Linked DNA regions of Homo sapiens: region 2 is linked to region 1. Evidence: fine-mapped expression QTL. A gene starts in region 1. The other region holds a variant in brackets. All regions are shown on one strand. Distances are from middle to middle.

Region 1 (11,683 bases):
AGAGCATGGCGAGAGATAATATGGTGCTTACAAAACACAGAGGTTTGGTGGTGGAAGAACTGAGAATAAGAATTATTTTTTAAATCTCATAAAAATCAACTTACCACAATGGTTATAGTGTGCTTTCTACGATCACGAGATTCCACTAACCCCACTGAAACAGTTTTAAAGATTCAGTGACTTCAGAATGGGCTTCATATGTGCCAAACAGTATTCTACATAATCTGACATAGCCCAACAACCCTATGAAGTAGGTATTGTTACCAAACACATTTACAGACAAGGAAACCGAGGCACATAGACTAAGTATCTGATCACACAGGATACTGGGATCACAGAGCCAGCAAGTGGCTGAGCTAGATTCTAAACCCAGGCAGTCTAGTTCCCATGTTTCAGAAGCTGGGAAGGCCAGGGATGATCCCCACAAAACTTCTCAGTGGCAAACCTACTTGGTAGCATTTAGGGAAAGACAAATATTTTGCCTGTTTGAAAACCCCCTTTTCTCTGCCTGTGCCAGTACTCTGTCTGTGTGAACAATGAGAGATGTGTTTGAGGCTGGGGTGTGAGTGGGCTGGAAGCACTTAACACCTTCTCCACTCCCTGTACACACAGGCACTCAGCTCCTTGTCATCCTGGCCCTCTTTCCTGTGTTCTGGAAACCCTAGGCATGGGGCCGGGGAGGGCGGGTGATGGATAGGAAGTTCAGGTCTGAAACCATGTATCACAACATCGAAGGGTTTTTTTGTTTTTTTTGTTTTGTTTTGTTTTTTTGTTTTTTGCCAACTCCTATTTCTCTCCTTTCTTCTCAATCCTACTCTTCTCTATCCTAAATGCCACATTGTTATTGTTCTACTGGATAGGAGTAGCATTTTCAGAAATGGGGGATTTATTTTTATAGCACAGCTGGTCTGCCAAAGGTCACATAATTTGGCAATGTTCCCAGTGGTTAAAAATTAATTTCTCCTTATTAATACAACCAAGGTCCCAGAGGATCGGAGCTCAGCCTTATCTAAACTTGACAGCTTCCTAAACCTTTAGAAGATGCTTTCTCCTGGAGGGCCAGCCATGATACAAGGCCACTGTGTCCTGGAATCCTACTCCACTGAATCCTGTTAGGCAATGAAACCATTAAGCCTCTGACCATTTCTCATCAAGGCAGATAAAGCTTTGAAAAATACTGTAGCTCTCCAGGACAAACTTCTGCAGCATCTTCCAGAAATGGGTTAATTAAAAAACAAAAATCAGCAAACAGCCAAGTCCTTACCTGGAAGGAACAGTACAAAGACTAACTTCTGGTGATCAATATACTTATCTGCCACTCAAGGAAGGTATCTCAAAGATTATCCAGTTGCAAGTGATGGTCAGATAATAAAATACCTCAAATATGTTAATAACACTACAAGCCATTGCCCAGATGACACTTTTCAAGTCCTTTCTTGTCAGTTCAAGAAATTAAAAAGATATTCTTCTTTTGCTCTATCTTTTAAGAAAGGAAGATCTCAGCTCAAGTTCCTAAAGTCTTTCCAAACTGGACCTTTGGAGAATATATTTGGAAACCTCTTTACCTGGCTCTTGAATTCTGTCAACTCAGAATTGTCTTACACTCAGGTCATCCTGAGTCAGTTCATTTTCCTGATTGCTTTAGGGAAGACTTGAGTGAAATGAAAAACACCAGGGTCCCCAGAATCATCTGGTCCCTGGTGTCTCTCCTCACTGACCCCAGACCCCTCCCTCACTGTCATTTGTATTCGTGCCTCACTGCATATGAATTGGCATTTGGATTCCTAGCTTTTTCTATGCCTGGAAGATAGGAACTGGCCTTTCTGCTGCAGAACGTGGACTTGATACATTCAACAGCAGGGGATCAGAGCCATTTGGTAGACAGCAGGAGTCCTGTCTGGGTAGCCTGGGTTCCAGTCACTGCAGCCTTCCAATCTTTCATTTTGCCAGTTGAGTGCTCCGTAGCTTAATGTCTGAGGGCTCTATGGGATGACATAAAACTCCAAACCTGATGTGCACTGGCGCATTCACAATTCCACCAGGCACCGCTTGGACGAGTAGGGGCCTGCCCGGGGCCCTTTGGGGAGTGCTCCTCTTGCCACTGTCTTGCACTGTGTGCTCTGCTGGCAACTGGCCACAGCTTCCCTACCTCCAGGAGCTGATCACGGGGGAAAAATGTTTACTGGGTACCCATTTAATGTGGGCATGAGACCAATCCCTAGAGCCCAGAGCAGGCCGTCTGCGTAAAATCTAGGAGTTTACAGTTTACTTGCAAATTATTATGCTCGCCAATGGCCATCTCACATTTTGGGGAGACAGGCTAAAAGAAACACTTCAAACCCTTATCCGGCGCCTAGACCGTCATTGCTTCTCTTTCAGGATTTGTCTGAACCCAGACCTGTCTCCCACAGCCAATTTACACCTCTTATCTGATCATCCAGTCCAGACGGAAGGGTGAATTGACCGAGAATCTGCGCGTGTCCATGGCAATGGCGTTAAAACCCAAGCATAGATCAAAGCTCTCCAGACGAGGAGGGGAGGGGTAGATGGTTATGGGGTCTGGGTTCTTTTGGCCCCAAGCGATGTGTCCCGGAGGTGGGGACATTAGGCCTGGGAGTTGCCACCATTTGAAGAAACCCATTGTCAGGACTTGAATGATTTTCTGAGCAAAACCCAGTCCCCCCGCAGATCATGATTAACTCTAGCAAAGGGGACGTTCGTAGTGGGCGCTGATCGGGAATGGCTAGCGCCAGGGGGCTCTCCTCTCTGTCTGAAACCGAAAGAACAGGAAGTGGAGGGAGGGGAGCCGAGCAGGGAGCACACGCCAATAAACCTGAGCGTGGATCTCCTATCTTTTAGAAGAAATTCAGCCGGAGCCGCAGAAGCCGCAACGCATATGGGCAAGATCCCCTAAAACTTGGTCTGGAAAGCTGATTCCCGAAGGTTCCCCAACCCAGATGATTCCCAGAGGGGCGACAAGTCTATTCCAAATCCCTCCCCCACCTCCAAACACTAGGGCTACCGGCGCCCGCCACCCAGCCGCTGGACGCCTGCGACCCGGTGGGAAAGACCCCCGGCACAGCCAGCCCGAGTCGAAGGGCGGGGGCAGCCCTTCAATCAGAGCGCGCCTTGCCTCCATTAACTTGTGTTGATATTAAAAAGAAATCAATCAGTGAAAATGAAGCATCGGCCGTGAACATTTCTTTTTCTCACGTGGAAAAGCAAAGAGCGAGGCGGCTGGGGAGGGGAGGCGGGAACTCGCCGGCGGCTGCAGGCAGAGGCTTCTCCAGAGACCAGCGCTGCAGCCGAGACCTAACTTTCCGGCATAGGGCAGCGTTGAAGAAATGCCGCAGGCTTTTCCCTGGGGGTGTCCTTAGGAGGAGGAGGAGGAGGAGGGCACAAGCATGGAGTAGTTGGAGGCGGCCAACTTCGCGGAGGCTTCAGCCTCGGTTTTGCTTTCGCTGGGAATATTTTTGCTTAATAGAATGTTTATGGATCGCTGGGCTCTGTTTCTGCTGCGTAGCCCAAACAAATCGATGCGGCGTTAGAGAAGGCGCTGGGGGGCGGGGAAGGGGAGGGAGGGCTAGGAGGAGAGCTGAGGGGCTATCACGTCCCCACCACGTGGATGGCCGCACGCCGCGTGCTCTTCACCTGTTCCTGCGCACCGGCGGGCGCTGGGCGCGCGGCGCTTCTAGAGGCTGTGCAAGTTGCGCGCATTCCTGGGGCTCAAGCTGGTTCCTTCCCGCCTCTCTCCGCCCTCCTCTCCGAAATCCCACCCCAGTTTCCTCTCACCTAGTTGGGCCAGCGCTTGGATTCCCAAGCCAGCCGGCCTCGGCCTCCCGCCACTCAAAGCCGTCTCTCTAGGGGTCGCGGCGAGCCTGCCGCGCAGAGCGGAGCGCAGGGGACTGGCGGGGGCGCCCGGGGCAGGGAGGGAGGCAGGCTAGCGGCTGCACTGCGGTCTGGCGAGGCGGCGCAGTGAGGAGAGGGGCAGCCTGGTGCGCGTCGCCCATGCGGCCTCCCAGCCACGCGCCAGCCCAAGGTGCCGCGCGCCGCGACCGCCGTGTTATTTGCTCAGTTGCTCCCCCGCGCGCACCTTCTGCCCCATCTTGCTCCTTCCCAGAATTGGTTCTCGTCGCCGGCGGCGGCGGCTGAACCAGGCCCCCTTCCCGGCCGGCGCACACCGGGTGAGTCAGAGGTATGTGGCTTGGCCTCGCCCTGGCCACCCGCTGCCGGCTCCCAGGGTGCCAGTGCTTTGCTCCGCCTGAAAGCCTGAGCAGCTCACGGCTTGAGATCGCATTTTGGGGAGCTGGAGGTCCCTGGCAGGTCCCAGCTTCGAATCCCACCCTGAGATCCCACCCCGGGTCCGAGGTTGCCCCGAACTCCGCGCCTCTGGGCTTCTCTGGAAGTGACGCAGCACTGCTGGGGATTGGGATGGGAGGGGGTTCTGCAGAGAGCGCGGCAGGCAGGTGGCAGAGCGGGAGTGGGTCCAAGCGGGTGTCGCGCACACACGTACACACACTCCAAGCAGCGCTCGGGGACAGATGTGCGAACATCTGGGGTAGGAGATGGCCCCTGAGTCTTCACGACCCCTCCCGCTCCGCACAGCACACGGAACCTGAAGTTGCATGTGTGTGCGCGCCAGTGTGAGTGCCAGTGTGTGCGCGCTCGCGCGCTGGGGCCTACTGGAGTCCGTGTCTGAATACATAATATACTGTGGGCATCCTCACGGCGCGCGCGCGTGTGCACACACACACAGCGAATCACACAAACATACATAATTTACGCAGCATCCAGGTCTGTGAGTGGTAATTTAATTCCGCTTCAAGCTGGGAATTTAGAAATAAGGCAAGGGGGAACGGCGGAGGCCCAGAAAATCTCCCCAAGTGGGACCCCCACCCATCCCTTTGGCAGGATTTGCAGCTGCCCTGAAGACCACTTATGGCAAAGAAAGAGCTGCAAACGTGCGGATCTGGGTGGCAAAGGCATTCCTGAATTTTCTTCCCCCCTCAAATAAATGCCCAAGCTTAAAGTGGTGTGTGTGCTGGTGGGGGGCGTGAGGAGAAGGAAGGGTGACAGTACCAGATGCAAGGCTAGGATCCACTAGCTGATGTTCTGGGGATGCCAAGGAGGCTGCAGAGTTAGCTCTACCACTGCCGCCATCGCCTTGCAAGTGCCTTGGGTGAGGGCACTTCAGGAAGGCTTTTTCGCCTTTCTTTCACCCATTTCCTCCATAGATGGTTTCTCCATCTCCAATCACCTGTAGCAGCTGCTAAGAGTTTTGTTGTTAGATTCCAGACACTGTTCTCAGAGGGGTAGGGAGGCTCACTCTAGAGAGTGGTCCGAGAAGGAAGCACAAACCCCACTGCATTCCCCATGGATTCCCCTTTCCAGAGCATACCCCTTGCCGCTCCCCACAAATGCGGTCCCCAGACTGTTCTGGGCCTCGAAATGCTTATCTCCACAGCAGCCTGTCCACACACCCTTTTTGGCAGTGGTTGAGAACAAATTCCACTCAAAAGTTTCTAACCACTTCACAAGAGTGAGAGACCTTCGAGGGCCTGCAATTTGTTTTAGCTAATAATAATTTCTAAAAGAACGTACGATTTACTTTCCCAGACAACACATGGATGAAGAGAGAAGAGACCAACCGTCTTGGTTGCCAGCAGCACCCAACCCCAAGCCCCTATCTCAGCCACAAGCCAACTTGCTCCACCAGCCTGAGCCTTATGATTCTGAAGCATAACCAGTCATTCTCCAAAGAATCTACAGCATCTGAAAACCAAAACTAAACTCTTGTCTTTCCCAAGCCCTTCAGTTAACATTGCTCAATGTAGCTAAGTGGAGGGAATGCAAATGATTTATATTTCACTGGCTAGTTGGAGAAACTCAAGGGAGATGTGTTCTGCTTCAAGACAGGGAAAAAAAATTCCCAAAAACTGTAATGCAAAGGCTTTGTAGTATTTTTAAACCTTTGATTCAGTCCATATGTGACATATGAACACCGCCAAATTCTGTTTCAAAACACACTCACACACACACACACACACACACACACACACTCCTAGCAGGAGAGGAAAGTTGGGTTTTAGCAGCCGTGGTGGTGTAGGAAGGGCCGGCTGGGATCTCTCTTTAAATTATTGAGTACTGAGGGAGCCTTCTTCTGTGCCGTTCTGCGTGGCCTTCCTGCTTTAGCGGTCACTTTTAAAGGGGAAACCATGTTGCAATAAATAGAAAAACTTTCAGTGGCTTACCTGGTTGGCCTCTCACTTGGTGTCTTGAAAAGTAGAGGGCTAAGAAAACCCAGGTGAGAGGAAACATATCCATTTTGGAGAAGGTGGCTCTTTCCAGAGCTGGGTTCGTAGGTTTCTTGTTTAAATCTTTGTGTTTTTCTCTCTTTTATTTTCCTCCTTACAACGTCTTATGCAGAGGTTTCTAATGGTCAGCGTTTCCCTCCTGAGTCCTGGTGGCTTGTCTTCACCTCTATTCTTGCTGGAATTTCCACCTCACCAGGAGGAGAGTAGCTCCTGAAATCAGCAAAGAGGGAACAAGCCGGGAAGAGAACACGGTTTTCCTCTTAAAAACAAAACGCATATATGTTCTCTCCAGTTCCTCAAAGTGTCATTTCCTTTATCCTACAAATATCACGAGTATTTCCCGAAAGCCAAGCGTAACAATAATGATAATAATAATAATTAAAACCAAGACTTGCCTTGGGCATCACACGGCCCCCAGGCAGCTGTGTGATCTCAGAGGCGTAAACTGACACACATCCCGCGGCACCCTTGACGGACACACGGGCGGAGGCAGCCGCCGCCGGACAGCCCGAGTGGAAGGCGGCCGCCCTGCTCTTGTCCTCGCCGGGTTCCCCCGGCGGGAGCCTCCCCCAACGGCTACACCCGCTTGGCCAGCCTCTCGAGGGGAGTCTGAGGAAGGAAGCTGCTGCTGCTGTTGCTGCTGCTGGTGCGGCGGCGGTGGCGGCTGGGATCGCCTGGGAGTGAGCGAGCCCCTCTCCGAGTTCGCTGGCGCCCGCCCTCACCTCCACCTCGCCGAGTGTCTGTGCGGCTGAGGATGTGCTGGGGGCCGGCTGCAGGCTGGTGCCTCGCTCGCGATCTCTGCCTCCCCTCCGGCTCCCCACTGCCTTTTCAGGCCGAGCAGCATGTGGATGTCAGAGCCGCGGCAGAGCTATCCGATTACGCGCCGGCTCAGGGCCCGCCCCTTCTGTGTTCCTGATTAAAGAGGCAGCCGCGGAGACGCGCGGCGCAGAGCAGAGTGCCGCGGCACCCAGCTCGGGCGGGGCGGCGACGGCTTCTCTCGGGCCGCCGCAGGATCGAAGTTAAGGCGGCGCCCATCCCACCACCCCTCGCCCGCCCCGCATCTCCCGATCGCCCCCGCGCACCTCCGCGCCGGGCCGCCGGTGCGTAACGCCCTGGGGAAGAAGCGCCCCCGGGCACCCCCAGGGCGCGCCGCCTTGGCCGTGTCGCCCCCACCCAAGGGAGACCCCGGGGGGACGGGGGGAAAAGCCTTGTTCCCCCTAAATTCCACGACTCCGATGCCACACACGCAGAACCCAACACAATGCCACGCGCGATGGCGTTACAAGAGGAGTTGGGTGGCGTACGGTGTTTGGGGTAGCGAGCCGGTCGGCAGCTCAGCCATGCGTTCGAACAGGCAGCGGTGCGTGGCGGCGACACACACCGTCAGCCCGGTCTGAATAAAACCCCAAACACTCGCTGCGTTTACTACTCAGATCCTTTGTTATGTCCCAAACATGCTCTGCTCCTCTCTGGGTTAGGATTTCGTTACCCCTGCGCCTTTAACTGTAACTACCCTAAAAAGAGGAAAGACTTTCTTCAGCAAATAATTTCTTCAGGTAATTAAATTGGATTCCATCAAGTTCCCCCGAAAAAGTATAGGTGCTTGAAGGCGTCTCATCCAAATGCTACTGTAACTACGTCTATTCACATTTTCCCCCATGGAAACGTGGTCACAAAGCCTAGAGAAAGAAAACATCATTATGCCAACTATTTTTAAATGGAGGCGTGAAAACTGTTTAGAGGGAACTGCAAGCTAACAGTTGGGGAAACACTTGTATCTTTGTTTCTGAGGATGGCTTTGTGGATTCCAAACTGTCTTGCTTCACCAGACACCTATTACTACATTATCATAAAGACTGCAACAGAAACAGCCTAAATTACACCCTGCACATGTACACCTTTTCTGCCACAAAAGAGGTATATGAAAAATAAGAAAATTCAGAAAAATATTTACAGATTAAGATTTTTTTTAAATTAAGAAAGTAAAATTTTCTGTAGATTAAGAAAAATACAGTTTCGGTGACGAGAAACACACACCTGACTACCCATTTTCTTCTTGGCTTGTACTTGTGGATTCTTCTGGGTGGTTTCCCTCCTTATCTGGACTTGCCCATTAGCTTTATCACTTTTAGTGTTTGAAAAATCTGTAACTCCCACTTAACTGTTATTTACACTGAGATAACCAAAACAAAATTGAATCAGAAGTGATTTGCAAATAGTTGAGCCAAGCTGTGTTGGGGGGTGGCGCGGGATTTTAGAGTGGAAATCCACAGGCTGAGTATCACACTGTTAATCTCAGATGCCTGGTTGGGAAAGGCACAGCACAGAGGCCTCTGAGTTCTTCCAGGGAGCATGTCTCTTGGCTAGCCTAAATGCTACCTTTCATTCCCTCTTTGCCTCCCTCCTTCCTCTTCCTCCCTCCTTTCCTTCCTTCTTCCTTCCTTTCTAGGCTTGAGAGCACATCCACATTATTAAAAACTCCAGATTTACATTTCTCCTCTTTAAAGCTCAATTGTAAAGAATGACTCCAAGCCTTAAATATTTAACAAAGTAAAAGAGCAGTTTGGATTATTAACCTTAAGCAGAGATCCCGGTTTATGTCATTGCCAAGATGCTAATCTAAGGACAAAGAACGCTATCTGTAGTGACAGTCCCTGAATAGAGAGGGCCATTTAATATCACCTCTCCCCACCACTCACCAGGCATGCCAAACCATTTTTGCCAGTGCCCAATGTGGGAGACTCCTGTTTGTGAGAATAATGTAGCCAGGGTTTAGGTGAAGGGCACTGTGAAAGGGGGAAAGAAGAGAGAAAAGGTAAACCTAAGCCCACTGGAGAACCATAAGAATGACAACCCTGGACTTCTGGTCTTGGGGTCTCAGGGATGAAGGTCCCCATCAGGCTGCTTCCAGAGTAGAGAAAAGTAAGAATCAGTTTTGTTCCTGGCCTGGTTGCCTACACTGTAACTTTTCATTTTTCAGCGGTGTCCTACAGGGGACGCTCACTTACTTCCTGGGAGTCCTCTGTACCAGGGCTGCAAGACTTCCCACTCCCCTTGAGTGAAGGCCTCATTTCCTGCAGTTGGACAGAGAGTGAGTCTCAGGTTTCCATCCCTGGGGACTCAAGCGGCCAGACCATTTTTCAATCCTCTAGGGGGCAGCACTCAATAAATAATGGTAACACCACCCAGGGTCACACTTCTGGTGGTGCTTTTAATTCCAAGGAGTTCAAAGTGCTTTATCAGACCAGGGAAGATTCAGAGTGAGGCCGATCTCTCCCCAGCCTACTCTGAACAAGACCCCACCGGCCCAGAGAGGGCTTAGAATTGTTTTAACCTAAGACTTCCAAGGACTCTTGGGAACTAAACACAAATCTCACATGTGCCACATGGAAAACAAATCTTTAGGGAAATTCTTCACACTGGGACTGGCTCAGACCTGCCAGTCTTGTTTCCCTCTAGACTGGGATCTCAGGGTTTGACTGCAGTTGGTCTGGTTTCCACCAGAGGTATAGTGGTAAAGAGCTAGGTAGGCACCGTGCTTTTCAGTATTTTGTGAGTCCACATCCCTGGCCCATAGGGAAGCCTGCCTACCTAAAGGCCAGTGTCAAAAATCGGGTTTGTGATCAAAAACACTGAGCTGACTAGATAACAGCTAATTAGCGAAGCTGAGATTCCTGGCCACATCACTGACTCACCTAGGATGTTTCATGTCATTATCCTTAGTTGTAAAATAATACTAGATAATCCACTCCACATTCCATTCCTTTGACGGGAAGGGATGTGGGGGAACATGAAACAGGTTGGTAAATGATGCTAAGAGAAAGCTGTTACCAAGCCACACCCCTGTGGAAAGTTAAGTGTTCCCAGCTAGACAGTCCCAAACCTTAGGGTATATCAGCATCACCTGGAGGAAGTGTTAAAAATTCTGATTCCTGGGAACCATTTTCCTGCAGGTGAAATTCCTTGGGTCTGGAGTGGTCTTTGGGAATCTGTATTTTTAACACACATCTTAGGTGATTCTGATGCAAAGCCTCCACAGACCAGTAGTTGGGAACTTCTGATCTGATGTGTTCTATTTACACACAGCCTTCCATAAATGCTCTTCCGTTGAAGGAAACCTGGACAAGCATTCCTTCACATTTCCTCTCTGGGTACTTTTCAATATGGGGCAGATGTTTCAGGTTTCTTGGAAAAACCACCAAGAACAAGTTCTCGAAAATGCTGCAGTGGTGGAATTCCCAGATTTACCTGTGACCTTTAGCAGCAACTGCAGAGAGCCAATTTGAAAACACCAAAAGCCTCGCCTCATGCAGGCAGGAGCTTTGCAGGGACATGTTCAAAGTAGCGGCTGATGGGTTTATGAGCTGGAGCCAGACCTTTCATCACCAGCCCACTCAACCATTGGTGGTTACTAGAGGTTCGTTTCAGGTATGCTTTTCCATCTGTGTTCATCCCACTGTACTTACGAAATGTTCATGGATGCATGACTATGCCAGAGGTATGCGAGCAAGACAGAGATTTAGGTCTTGCCTCTCGGGAACACAGGATCTAAAAGCTCCAGAAGTTTCATGCTTCCACAATAGATATCACGTGTCACATGGTGCTTCCCCTTATCGGAGCCCTAACATCAATAAGCTCTCACCCTGAAAAGGAAAGATCTAAGGCATAATTGCATCTTAATCTGTAATTTAACACACTGCCCTAGTTAAGGTTTAGCTACATCTGTCTCAGAAGCAAAGCTTCAGTTAAAATGGAATAGGTCCTAATTTATTATTCTCTCTTTTGTTTGATGTCAAAGTCCAGGTTTCTGGTCACTAAGGGTTTTTTTTTTTTTCTTACTCGCCTTTTAAACAATCAACTTTTTTTTTTTCCAGCACACTTGAATATTGCCCAGTAGTTTCTATTTGACATTTCTATTCTAAATTGATATTTCTAGTATATTCTATTTGGTGGGTTTCTGGAATCCTTACAGATTTCCATAAAGTATTGAAATCTCCTTCACTCCATACTGGGTGTATATCTCATTTCTTCCTCAGACACAAACACTGGATCTGGTAGGAGGGGCCCTTATGAAACAAAATTTAAAAAGCAGCAGCAAAATGTGCAAAATTCATTCAGACCTCCCTGGAATCCTTGGAAAAAGAACCTAAAGAAGCCCTATTGCTTCTTCCAGTCTGCCTGGCTTTAGCATGAGTCTGATCTTCCTATGCTACATTAATTTTTCTACCTTTGAGGCAATAAGCGTATCAAAAAGACCCAGTCAACCCTCTCCCTTAAAACAGCACTCTCCATTAAATCTTCTGCAAGGACGGTGGTCTCTGTGCTGTTCACATGGCTACTGCGCACTGGAAATGTGGCTAGTGTGAGTG
Region 2 (11,683 bases), 63 kb before region 1:
AAGGAAGGCTTGTTTGCTACACTTCACCTCTTTGTGATCCGTCTCTATTTCTGAAGACTGGGACAGTCCAGCATCTCCATGGGGAGGTATGCCCGGTGGGAAATTTGGCATGGTAAGAGCAAATCGAAGGGACCAGACCAGCCAGCTTCTCAGCTCAGTGCTGGCCAGGAGGAAAAATAATTTCCCATCATGCTGAATCCCTGGAGGCTGCGACCCCGGGAGGTAGAGAATGCTTTCCCTATGGGAATCCAGGAACTAATGACACAGTGGTGTCCTGTCTGCTTTGATGGTTCACCTGCCTGAGCCTGAAGACAGAACCAAGAGAGTTTCTTCTGAGGTTCCACCCAGCTCCAAAAATCCAGTATGAGCTAATGCCAAATATGTGACTAAGTGGGGGTGGTGTGGACGTGGGGAAAGAGGAAATGGGAACCCAGATTTGGTTGTTTGCCGGCAGTGCCTGCGGAGACAGTGGAAAAATGTTGGCTAATGTTGGTAGCAGGGAGAAAGTGGGGTCTCTGCCCTTCTCACTTCCCTTCCCAGGGTTCTTAGAGAGGAATTTCCCTGGGGAAGGCTTAGAATGCAGGTTAGGAAGTCTAAAGGGAGCCACGGACTGGTAGAAACAAATTACTCACCCTAGGGGTGAGGAGGGCTCACCTCATGGGGGGCAGGGCACTGCTGGCGTCAGAGGGAGGAGGAAGATTGCCACCAGGCCCTGTAAATGCCTTCCCTTTCCAGGACAGGATATTTAATGTTTGCCCACCCTTGGCCAAAGTCAGCTTGAGTTTAGAAGAGACACATGGAATCTATTACAGAAGCATCAACCTGTGGCTTGGAAAAGTCAGCCCTTAGCCTTTACCACCCCTTCTCCTGACAATTTCTGAATTTCTATTTTTCTCTTCAAAAATACGAAGTAATTCAATATAGCATAAATCCTCTGTAATGTTTACATGTATACTGTATCTCAGGAACCAAATTCTACAAAAAAAACTTTTGCAAAAAGAAAAGGGAGGAACCATCAAAGAAACCTCAAATGAAACAAACCACTAGAAACGGGAAAATCATATTAAAAATAAACTTCTGAAATTTTGCAGCAGAACCCTTAATTTTTCCTTTGATTGTCATTTAGCTAGAACCCCCACTCCAGGTCCCCCAACAAGCTAACTCTGTAAATCCAATATCGTATGTTAACTCCCTATGCATTCCACTTTTGGCTCTCAAACTATCTGAAACATGTCTTGGAAGATTCTCCAAGTCTCCTTCTTCTCTCCATAAAACAAAAACAAGTTCATTAAAATGTCAGAATTCTGTATTCAACTAACCCCGACCAACAGTGTCCCCCACCCACACAATAATATGAAAGCACAATCCCCAAAGCATATGCATTAAATTATTGCTTTTTCAGTCACATAACTTCAGCATTTATTCTTGGCTTTCCTCCCATTCTTCTTTGTAGCCATTTTCTGGAGTCATCCACTCCATCAGTGTAGTTCCTCTAACTGTCAAACGGCTGTGCTTGCAGGTTCCACAGATTTTGCCATCTACCTATATCTTTATGTCTCCATCACTTCTCTAGTCTCTTTGCCAATCTTCCCTCATTTTGTTTAATGAACATTTAATAATGATCAGTAATTTACTGTAAGTTGAGGCTGTCAAGCTTAACATTCTAGCCAAAATGCCAGGTGTTCCAAAATTTGTGGTTTCTTATAAATGTCCTCATACTTGGTGACTTTAGCAGTATGATTTAAAATGTGACTGACTTTTGGATTCTGCCAATTATTGTTTTTATCTAACTTGGATATACTCCGAAGATAAATGAAAAGAATTTCCCATGTGATGGGACCCATCCAGAAATGCGGAGCCCCTGAGTTTTGAGGGAACGGTTGAAGATGCCTTTTTACATTTCCGCCTTTGTCTCTGATCTGCACTCCAGTTATAGAGGATACAGTGCACTATCTTATAGAATCATCACTGTTATACTTTCTCAAATTGGTGGCGGTGAAAGACACAGGGAAACACAATTAAGTCACAGGTAACTGCTGGATTAACCCAACTATCGCGCTCCATCACCCAGATGACTGCCGTATCTTCACTTCGCTGTAGCATACACACACAGCTTAACAGGAAAAACTATCAGAGCTGTGAATTCTAAGGATAAGAATGGTTCTCCTTTAGCAGACAAGCAAGATAGTGAGGGCTCAACAAATGAGACTCCTCAAAAGAGGAGTTCTCTTTGGAGTCATCCTTGTCTCACCTGATGTCTAGTGGGTTCACACCAGTAGGGCTGTACTGGTTGTTACACTATCCAAATGCTTCTACATTGGTTGTAAACAGCCACTGCCCCAAACCCCTAAGTGCCCCCACCTCTCTTACCACTTCTTTGAGATCCCCTGGATCTCTGATCTGGGGGACCACTAGGTCCCTGTCCAGCCACAGGCCAGCTCCCACTCTGACTAGTCCGCACCCATGCCATCTGGAGGCAATTTGTGCTTACCATCCTCAAAGCTGCAGTTCTCCCCACACTCTGTGGCCTCCTCTTCGGTGGGGTAGGGGGTGGTTGTCTCTTCGCTCTTCACAGTGGGTCCCAGCGTCTCTACCGTGGGCTTGGAGTCTGTGTAAGGGCAAAGGAAGATAAGAGAATGCTGTAGCAGCCTGTGTTGCAACCCAGCAGGAGGAAGATGCCAAACATCTCTAGAGAAGGGAAAGAAGATGCACACATGTGCACGGAACTCTGAAGTCATGTCTGTGTGCTGTCAACGAAGTCAGGGGCATCACCATAGTAGAATGAGAATGGTCCTGGGTTGCAGAACCAGCAGTGACAGAGGTAGGGACACAAACCCACATTCTTTACTCCACAGCAGAGGCCCCGAGTTTAGCACAAAAGGCCACGAGACAATAATGGAGGGGGCTACAGGCGACGCTGACTCCAAGGAAGGACCAAAGCACACTCTGGCTCATGTTTGCACAAAACTGGATGGACGGGAATATGGATTTAAAGAGGCTCAGACCCTACATGGTGAAAGTGATTTGGGGCTATGTCTTTAGGTCAGGGTGTGGCAAGTTCAAGTGTTTCCTGGATCCAAACACCTACTGTAAGTGAGGAAAGCAGACGTGGTTGTGAGGGCAGGGGAAGGTTGGAGAGAGAGGAGGTGGTGAAAGCTGGGATCTTACATGCCTGGTTTAAAGGTGGCCTCCATGACTGGCTCCAGCAGACTGGGGCCTGGAGGGGAGGTGGCCCAGTGTGGCCAGGCCAGGTCTTCCAAATCTTTCCCCCTTTCCTTCCCCCAACAAGAAAGCAAAAATCCCTAAGTAAAATCTCCAGACTCTACATGTTGGCAACTTATTAAAAATGTTATACTAAGTAGCACACAATGAACCCTGGCTAGGCCAAACCTGGCTGCAGGCAGGGGGTTTTGACCTCAGCTCTAGGTGATTCATTCACCTATTCATTTGCTTATTTGCTCATGCCCGTCATTCATTCAGCAACTATTGAGGGAGTGAATGGAGCTATGAGTCAGGCCCTGGGTGGGGTGAAAGGGGTTCTGGAAACTGGTGCTCAAGTCCATGTGTTTTGGGGTGGTGTCTTCATCCCAGAGCTGTCCTCCAACAGGATGCCAGTGCCTTGTCCCTCTCATTTCTATACATGCTCCTTTGCACTACTGTATGTGATTAGGCGCCTTTGTCAGGCACCCTTCAGGATACCATTTAATAAAGCCAGGAGCTGGAGGAAATTGCTAAATACGCTGAATAGCTTTTTCACGGTCGGCTTCCCACCTTTCTGCTATTAAATACTACGCACATAACCTTTCATACTTCCCTTTGCTGTGTCTGCCTTTTGCTCACAGTAAATAGCAAATAACCTCGAAGTGTCCTAATTTGTAAGTTCAAGTTTGTCACTGTGTCATAGAAACTCGATTGTAAAGCAAACTATGGGGCAGTAAGGCAAAACATAATTATTTGAAACACAAACCAACTAACAGGTGAAGCAGCCCTGTCAAAGTATTTAGCTGCAGCAGCTCAGCCCAGCCCATTATTTTTCCTGTTATCCTTTGGGATAGGGATGAAGAAGTGAACCGAAGATGAGTGTGAGAAACAGATGGAAATTCGAAAAGCAAACATAGCCACGTGACCTATGGAGAACAGTTTCTGGAAATGTTAGGTAGCAAAATGGGTCAGCTGATTGGTGTAAAGAATGTTAAACCCAGGGGCCAATGAGGCACCGGAGGGCAGGGCGTGTAAATGAAAGTGGAGGAACGGCGGGCACCGAGGCCTCGGTGTTTATACTGTTTGTACTATGTTTGTACTGGGTGCTCCAAGGTAACTGCCCATCAAACAGCAACGCTACCCCTGAAATTGAAACCAGATGTCAGAGACTTCAAAGGAAAGGAGGCTGGGCAGAGGGGAACGCTCCTCAACTCTGATCTTCCAAGGAATGGCCAGGCAGGGCTTTGAAATAAGAAACCTGTCACTGACCATCACCAGTGTAATTTGGGGCATGTTGGGATTGGGGAGCAATGAAGGAAAGAGGTCATTAGCAACTGTCCCACTGGCCAGACTGGGAGGGCATGGCACTGAAGGGCAAGGGATGGGGGGAAGAATGAGGTGGACTTCATCCAGCTGAGTGACCTCTGGCAAGTGACTTCTACCTTCTGGGGCTGTTTCCTTGTCTATGAAAGAGGAATTGGCCCAGGTCTGTGATATTTCCCAAACCACGCATCACTCTCATCATTGGGTTGTGGAATCCGTCGAATAGGTCATGACCAGCTTTTAAAACATACCGACTATAATATTTTGGAGTGCACTTCCATGGTTAAGATGACCATTGCTTTGGGAACCTTTTGTTTCAGTTACAGTTATTTATCATAACAGGTTTGCTGGGTGCAGGCAGTAGTCTAAGTATTTCACATCCATTCATTCATTTAATCCTCACAATGACCCTATGGGGTAGACAGACTATTGTCCTCTCCATTTTTCAGCTAAGATAACCAAGGCGCTGAGAGACTAACTTTTCTGAGGTTATGCAGCCAGCCAATGGCAGGGGCAGGACTTGAACTTGGCAATCTGTCTCCAGAGTCCAAGCACTTACCCATACACTGTACCCCGTATACACCACTGTGTGTGAGTGCTTATAAGTGAAGCGGGTTGTGAAGGAAAATTATTTTAAATTGTGTATCATGGGCAGAAGTGTGTGAAAGCCACTGGCTTACAAGCTCCTGGATCCCCTACAGCGCTGAGCCCCTGATTCCAGGGCACATAAATGAAGCCAGCTTGTATCGGGGGGAGGTTTTCTGCACCTGTGAGAGGACGGGTGACACACGTTTAGCAGGCTGCAGGGAACTTTGGCCTCATCCCCAGGTAATGGGGAGTTAAGTGTCTTCCTATGAAGATGTGTTCGCTGGGGCTGCCTTCAATTCAAAAGTGAGGAGGCTAATTTGGGCCCAATTCCCAGCCCGTGTGCCTCAACAGGGCTCCTCTGCGCTGCTGTAGCCAGCATACAGGCAGCATTTTTCTCCCTGGGAGCCAAAAGCACTTCTCCGACATGCCCTTATTAATCCCTCATGCCATCCTGCCGGCTGAGCCCGTGACAGGTACGGCACAGACAGGAAAATGGGGATACCTGGGGCTCTGGCGGAGGAGGGCAGGATAGCTCAGGCTGGTGGCTGCTCCTGCTGGCATCAGGCTCAGTCCCTGAGCCCCAGTGGCTCCCACAAACTCCTTTTGGCAGGCAGTGAGTGAGCTCTGGGTAAGATCTGGTGCCAGCTCTGCTGAGGGAGGAGGGCTGGCGACCCAAGGAAAGGAAGGTAGGGCCTGACTCAGAAGGGCAGGGCCCTCCCTCGGAAACCAGGAAGGCTGGGCACCCTCCGTGGGCCTCACCCTCATTTGGAATGATGAGAGGTGTTCCCCAAGGCCTGGGCCACCTGGCAGGAATGAGCAGGACAATGAGAAGGAGTCCTGCCCCCATCAGCTCCCTGCAACAGGGTCCCTCCTGAGCAAATAAATGCCTTTTACAGATGTGGCTCCGAAATGAAAATGAAGTCTCTTAGCCACTGACATCTGGAGGCCAGATTCAGACATAAACCGATTACTTTATTATCATGAGGGGTTTTTTTCTTCCCTAAATCAACAGCCACAGCCCTCTGGCCTGAAGAGCCAGGGTCTAATTGAATTTGGGTGGGTGGTGTGTGGTTATGATTTGTTTTTGAGAGACTCGGGTTGGAGAACTGAAATGATCCCTTAAAAAAGACAAAGTACATCCCTTGAGAAACTGTCCCAAGTCCAGAGGCTGCAGTACCCGTGGTCTGAGGCAGGAGAACATGGCAGGGGTCTGCAGCATTTCCAGCTCCTGGGATGGCTGCCCCCTCCACAGCCCTCCCAGGGCCTCGTGGGATGCCAGGGTCAGAGGACCATGTGGGTGAGATGCAAAGAGGAGGAAATGTCATCTTACCTGTCCAGTCACAGCCCAGCACCTCCAGCCGCATCCCAATCCCCGCCGGCGACCACCTCTCCGGGTATACCCGCACATACTGTGCCGGAATGGGGTCAAACCTTCGGATGTC[A/C]GGGGTGTCATAGTGCATGTTCCCTTCGAACAGCTGCAGGGAGAGAGGCCACTCAGCCCTTCTGGTGTGGGACCCAGTCCCTATCACCTTCTTCCCTTTCCTTCCCCTTCTCCTCCCTGCCCCGCACGTCCTGCTAGGAAGGCAGCTTCCTAGTTGATTCCTGGTCACTGGGACATTCTGATCCACGCGAGCTTCATTTTCAGACCAAGGATTTTATTCATTTGGAAGGTGGTTATGGACCCAGAATTATGGAAAATAGGAAGTAAACAAAGGTGGCAATTTCCAGGTTGTGTCTTTTACCTGGTGACTAAAATGGAGTATCTGGGGAAGAATTTGGCTCCAACTGCGTTTTCAGCTGACTTTGGCTAGAGAGGGGGGAAGGCAGTTTGGGCGATCTTTGACCGTTCTGAATTCCTGGTCTACAGGGAAAGGAACACTTCTTTTTCTAATGTGTGAAAGCCTCCATTGAGGTAACCCAAGCTGACTGATAGTTCCTAGCTCACTGAGAACCTTACGGGAAAATGACCCCTAGGCCAATGACACTGTCTTCTGGTCACACATCGATAGTCTTAGACTGTTTCCCAAACCTTTGTTTAGGGAAAGCACTCCTGTCAAAAGAAACCTCACATGGAGCCCCAGTACATAAAACTGATGATGCGGGGAGCAGGGGGCTGCTTTGGAGGACCAGCCTAGAGTACACTTGGAGACACTCATCCGGGGGAAGGACAGGAGTGGGTGGCCAGGGCCTGCAGCTGATTAGCCCCCAGAAATTCAGCAGGACCGCTCCAGTTTTCAGGATGCCCTGCGTCCACAATTCTGAACCAGAAGCACTGTCTCGGATAGGGCTGTCTCCCACAATGGCAAAGATCAACTTCTTTCCCAAGAAAAACCAGGCTCAGCTCTCCATGGGGAAGCCTGCGGTCCAACTTCTGCTCCATCGATGCAAGGTTCCAGTTACCAAGCCCTGAGCCTTTCTAAGCCTCTGGAGTTGAGAGCTGGGAGTTTACCTCAGCATCGCAAAACCTCCAACCCAACTCTTGCCTCTGTATTCAGAATGGAGACATTTGCTTAGCAAAGGTGGCCCCGAGACATGCAAACTCCCTCCTTTTTTAGGGACCTGTTCTTTTGAGAAAAACAAGGGGTAACTAGAGATAAGAATCAGAGAGCCTGGCCTGCCAGGAGACTGATCTGGGGAGGGACAGAGGTATGACGTCTCCTCCCCTTCTGGGGCTCCTTGTGTCTGTGTTGAAGGCTGACCTTCACTCTGGTGGCAGGGGAGTAAGCTGTACTGGCCTGAGCTTCTGGCTCGGGGTGAGTTTCTCTTGCTTCTCCCTTGCCTCAGTCTGAGAGGCCGGAAAGATCTAAGCAGTCAAAACTAGGAGAATACAAAGGAATGCAGCGACATTCAGAAAAACATCGTTATTTTTGGAAGTCATCCTCTAGTTTCTATAGCTTGGCCTCCAAAAACCACATCCCCTTTAGATGTCTGGCCAATTTCAAGGAAACTTTATCTGAAAGAGTGTATAAAGAGTGTTGAACTTTATAAAAAGGCAGTGTTCAGTAGGGGTTAGGCATCTGGACTTTGGAGTCAGACTTCCGGTTTCTGAATCGGCTCTATCACAGGTGAACTGTGTGACCCTGGGCATGATATCAAGTGTCAGTTTATCATCTCTAAAATGGGAGTGACAAAAAGATCTACTTTGCACAGATGTTGTAACGATTAAAAAAGAGTCCAGGCCGGGCGCGGTGGTTCATGCCTATAATCCCAGCACTTTGAGAGGCCAAGGCAAGTGGATCACTTGAGGTCAGGAGTTCGAGACCAGCCTGACCAATACGGTGAAACCCCATCTCTACCAGAAATACAAAAATTAGCTAGGTGTGGTGGCGGGCACCTGTAATCCCAGCCACTCAGGAGGCTGAGGCTGGAGAATCGCTTGAACCCTGGAGGCGGAGGTTGCAGTGAGCCGAGAACAGGCCACTGCACTCCAGCCTGGGTGACAGAGACTCCATCTCAAAAACAAACAAACAAACAAACAAAAGAGTCAGAAATAAGGTATTTAGCACAGTGCCTGGCACAAAGTAATCTCTCAAACGATATTTGTTTTATTGGATTTCAGGAGTTGGATGACGACTGTTTAGATGGGACATCATCAGTCTCAACTCCCTGTACCACACTTAGCCTCCCTGTTGAGGGTAACGTTACAGAGGCCTCCAAGAACAGCCTACCTTTGGCTGCTGGGTCCTGGGGTCCTGAATGTATTCCCAGTCCTTGCCGTTTAGGCTGTAGGAGACTTTGAACTTGCGCACAAATGCTCTGGCTTCCACAGCAGTGATACTGTCTCCTCCGCGGGCTCCCTGGATGATGACACCTTTCACTGTCTTGGGTGTTCCCAGATCTACCTGAAGCCACTCCTCACCGGGCTGGGCCTGAGGGATTCGAGGGAACCAGCCCGAGCGGCTGCTAACCAGGCGGGCTGCACTGGGGCTCCAGAGGTATTCCTGGGTGGAAGAGGCGGAGATCTGGGAGTCTGCAATGAGGCCTGAGAGCATCCCCAGCATGTTGGAGCAGGGAGCATCTGCAGAGAGGAGAGGAAGATACAAGAGGTCATGGCTGACACCTGCTAACCAGGGACCACCCGCTATAAGAAGGGAGCTGCAAAAGAGCCCAACTGTCAAATACTAAGTCAGCACTAATTTCTTTGCATGGTGAATGTGTACAGCACTGTGGTTAAGAGCCTGGACTCAGAGCTAGACTGCCTGTGTTCATGTTCACTCTGCCACTTACTAGTCAGAGGGCCTTGGGCAAATTATTTAATTGCTCTTTGCCTCAGTTTCCTTAGATCTAAAGGGGAGCTAATAGAGGTGCCTACCTCTTGAGGGCTGTTGCAAGGATTCTGTTAGTTACTAAGAGCTCACAGGATGGTGCCTGGCATATTTAAGTATCCAATGGCCATTAACTATTTGTGCTTACAGCTCTAACCAAGGACTCTCAGAATGTGTGTCTGCACATCCCTGTCGATGACACTAGTCCCCACTGACCCTATCAGGGACACTGAGAACAGGGGAACTGAGCTAAACATTGAATTATTTCCTAGTAATTGTTTTGCCAAGTAGAAGGAAACCTTCCTGGCATCAGTATCAGGTCTTTACTTCCCAAATAACTGCTCTTTACTGCCTTGGATCCTTCCCACATGCTGTTCCCATTACCCCAAATGCTTTTCCCTTCAGTCACCCCCAGACTAACATTTTCTTACCCCCAAGCTCAAGTGTCATATCCACAGAAAAGCTGTTCCCAAATTTTCAATCCTCACTAAATTGGTTTCCCTCAGAGCACCCTGTTCTTTTCCTTCATGTGCACATTCTAGTTTATCCAGTACTTGCATTTGTTTATTATCTATCTTGCTCAGTAGCCTGAAAGTTCTACGATGTCAGAGACCCCATCTATTTTGTTCCTGTCTCTATGTCCCATTCCCAGTGTGTGCCTGGCACATCAGATGTGTGGAACAAATGATTGAGTGGAGAATGCATGAATAAATGATGTCAGGCAAGGCAGGGTCTATAGTCAATGTGCATTTCATACTTGCAAACTGAGCTATGGATAAAAAAGATCCTCCACGTTGTTCCCCTTCTTCAAAATCACTGGTTCTCTCCTTTCAATCTTCCAGAGAATGACCTCTACCTAAATCTTTGCTGATTATCCTGGAACAGCAACAGGGAAGGGACAGAAAATAGTCCCCTAGACAGGATTAGCATAAACTGATCCCATTAGAAGAAAATGGGTCTTTGTGTAAATGTGGTAAGAGCAGAGAATTTGAATTGAGAAAACGTGGGTTCAGATCCTGGCTCTGTCACCTCCTAGTTGAATGACTTTGGGCAAGCTATTTAGCCTCTTTGAGTCTTGGTTTCCTTATCAGTCCCTGGCCCACCTTACCTCACAGGGTTGTTAGAAAGTGTAGGCAAGATGATAAACAAGAAAGGCATGTGGAGATGCAGAGACTGTACAAACACAAGGTGTTTTAACTAGAAACCTCAAACAGGGTCAGACCTTGGAGCACTCCCTGTCAGAGCTGGAATGATTAGGGGAAAGGCACGTGGATGGATGTACACTGAAGACACTTCCAGGTCAAAGAGGCAACTTGCCTGCCCTGGGCTGAGCCCACAAGATAAAGGGGATTGGTCTGTCCATAAATTTCTGGGGCTAATCCAGCCATCATCATCTCCCATCTGCACCCCCTGCATTGCCTCCTATAATGTCCCAACTCCCACTCTGGTCTTCTCCAATCTACATGCCTTGGGTTTCAGCCCACAAGCTGTGTCCATGCTCCTCACTTCCTCTTTTGGTCCCTCTTGCCACCGTGCCATTGAGAAAGCTGTGACCATTGCCTGGTGCACCTTCCCTCCCTTCTTCACCAGGTAATGTCTGTTATTTGCCTTCTAACCTCACCTCAATCATCACCTCCTCAAAGAAGTCTTCCTTGAGCTCCTAGGCTGGGTCAAATCCCCTACGATGTACTTCCAAGGACCATAAGCCTCTATGTCCAGACATTGATCATAGTTTTGATTTTATATTTATTTATGAGTTTATCAGTATGTCTGCCCAACTTGTCCATATGCCCACACAGAACAGTCTGTTGTGCCCACCTTTGTGTCCACAGCACCATGCACAGCTCTTGGCCCCCGGTTGAGGCAGCAGAGAGTGTTATTTGAAAGCAAGGGCTTTGGACTGGAACTGCCTAGATTCAAACCATGGCTCTACCACTTACTGGTGAGTGACCTAGCTCTTTAAGTCTTGGTTTCCTCATCTGTAAAGTGAGGAGAATAATACCCATGGAGTCCTTATGAGGATAATAAAATATGTTACATCTTAGGTGCTTAGAATGGCATCTGTACCTAGTTAGCATTCCATAAATGTTAGCTATTAATAGAAATCGTAGATGCTTAATAAATGTATACTGAATGAATGAATGAAAAGACAAACTCTGGTAGGACTTGAGTCCTTGAGCCAGTCTTTCTGGGAAGGTCATGTGGTGCAGTCATGCTGTTTGCAGAGAGTTGAAAGGGAGCAGAGCCTAGGGCTCAATCAGCACCCCAACCTCATTGGAGCCCCCACCTCACCTGTGACCCGGCAG

Which allele goes with the higher level. Positions count from the first base shown, and alleles are read on the strand shown. Sizes are in standard deviations (SD) of each study's normalised expression.
For the expression in monocytes after interferon gamma of the gene that starts at base 7,114 in region 1, allele C in region 2 goes with a lower level than allele A (moderate effect, 0.66 SD a copy in Fairfax 2014).

Evidence for each region.
Region 2: its variant is fine-mapped to the expression of NRP2 in monocytes after interferon gamma (Fairfax 2014, PIP 0.95). The same link has a PIP of 0.9 or more in monocytes after LPS.

What each region holds. Positions count from the first base shown.
Region 1 is chr2:205,677,932-205,689,614 of GRCh38, reverse strand. It overlaps NRP2 (neuropilin 2), which reads right to left and starts at 7,114. Exons shown (of 17, transcript NM_003872.3): 1 at 6,252-7,114. The coding sequence starts at 6,324. RefSeq lists enhancers at 4,489-5,119, 10,001-11,200 and a silencer at 7,594-7,713.
Region 2 is chr2:205,740,650-205,752,332 of GRCh38, reverse strand. NRP2 (neuropilin 2) reads right to left here. Exons shown (of 17, transcript NM_003872.3): 8 at 11,670-11,683; 9 at 8,781-9,130; 10 at 6,443-6,587; 11 at 2,492-2,608. Among named protein-coding and RNA genes, the nearest start is that of NRP2, 64 kb to the right of the region's middle. RefSeq lists enhancers at 1-48, 2,308-2,930, 2,931-3,554, 3,555-4,178, 5,145-5,696. The variant A/C (reference allele first, on the strand shown) is at 6,555.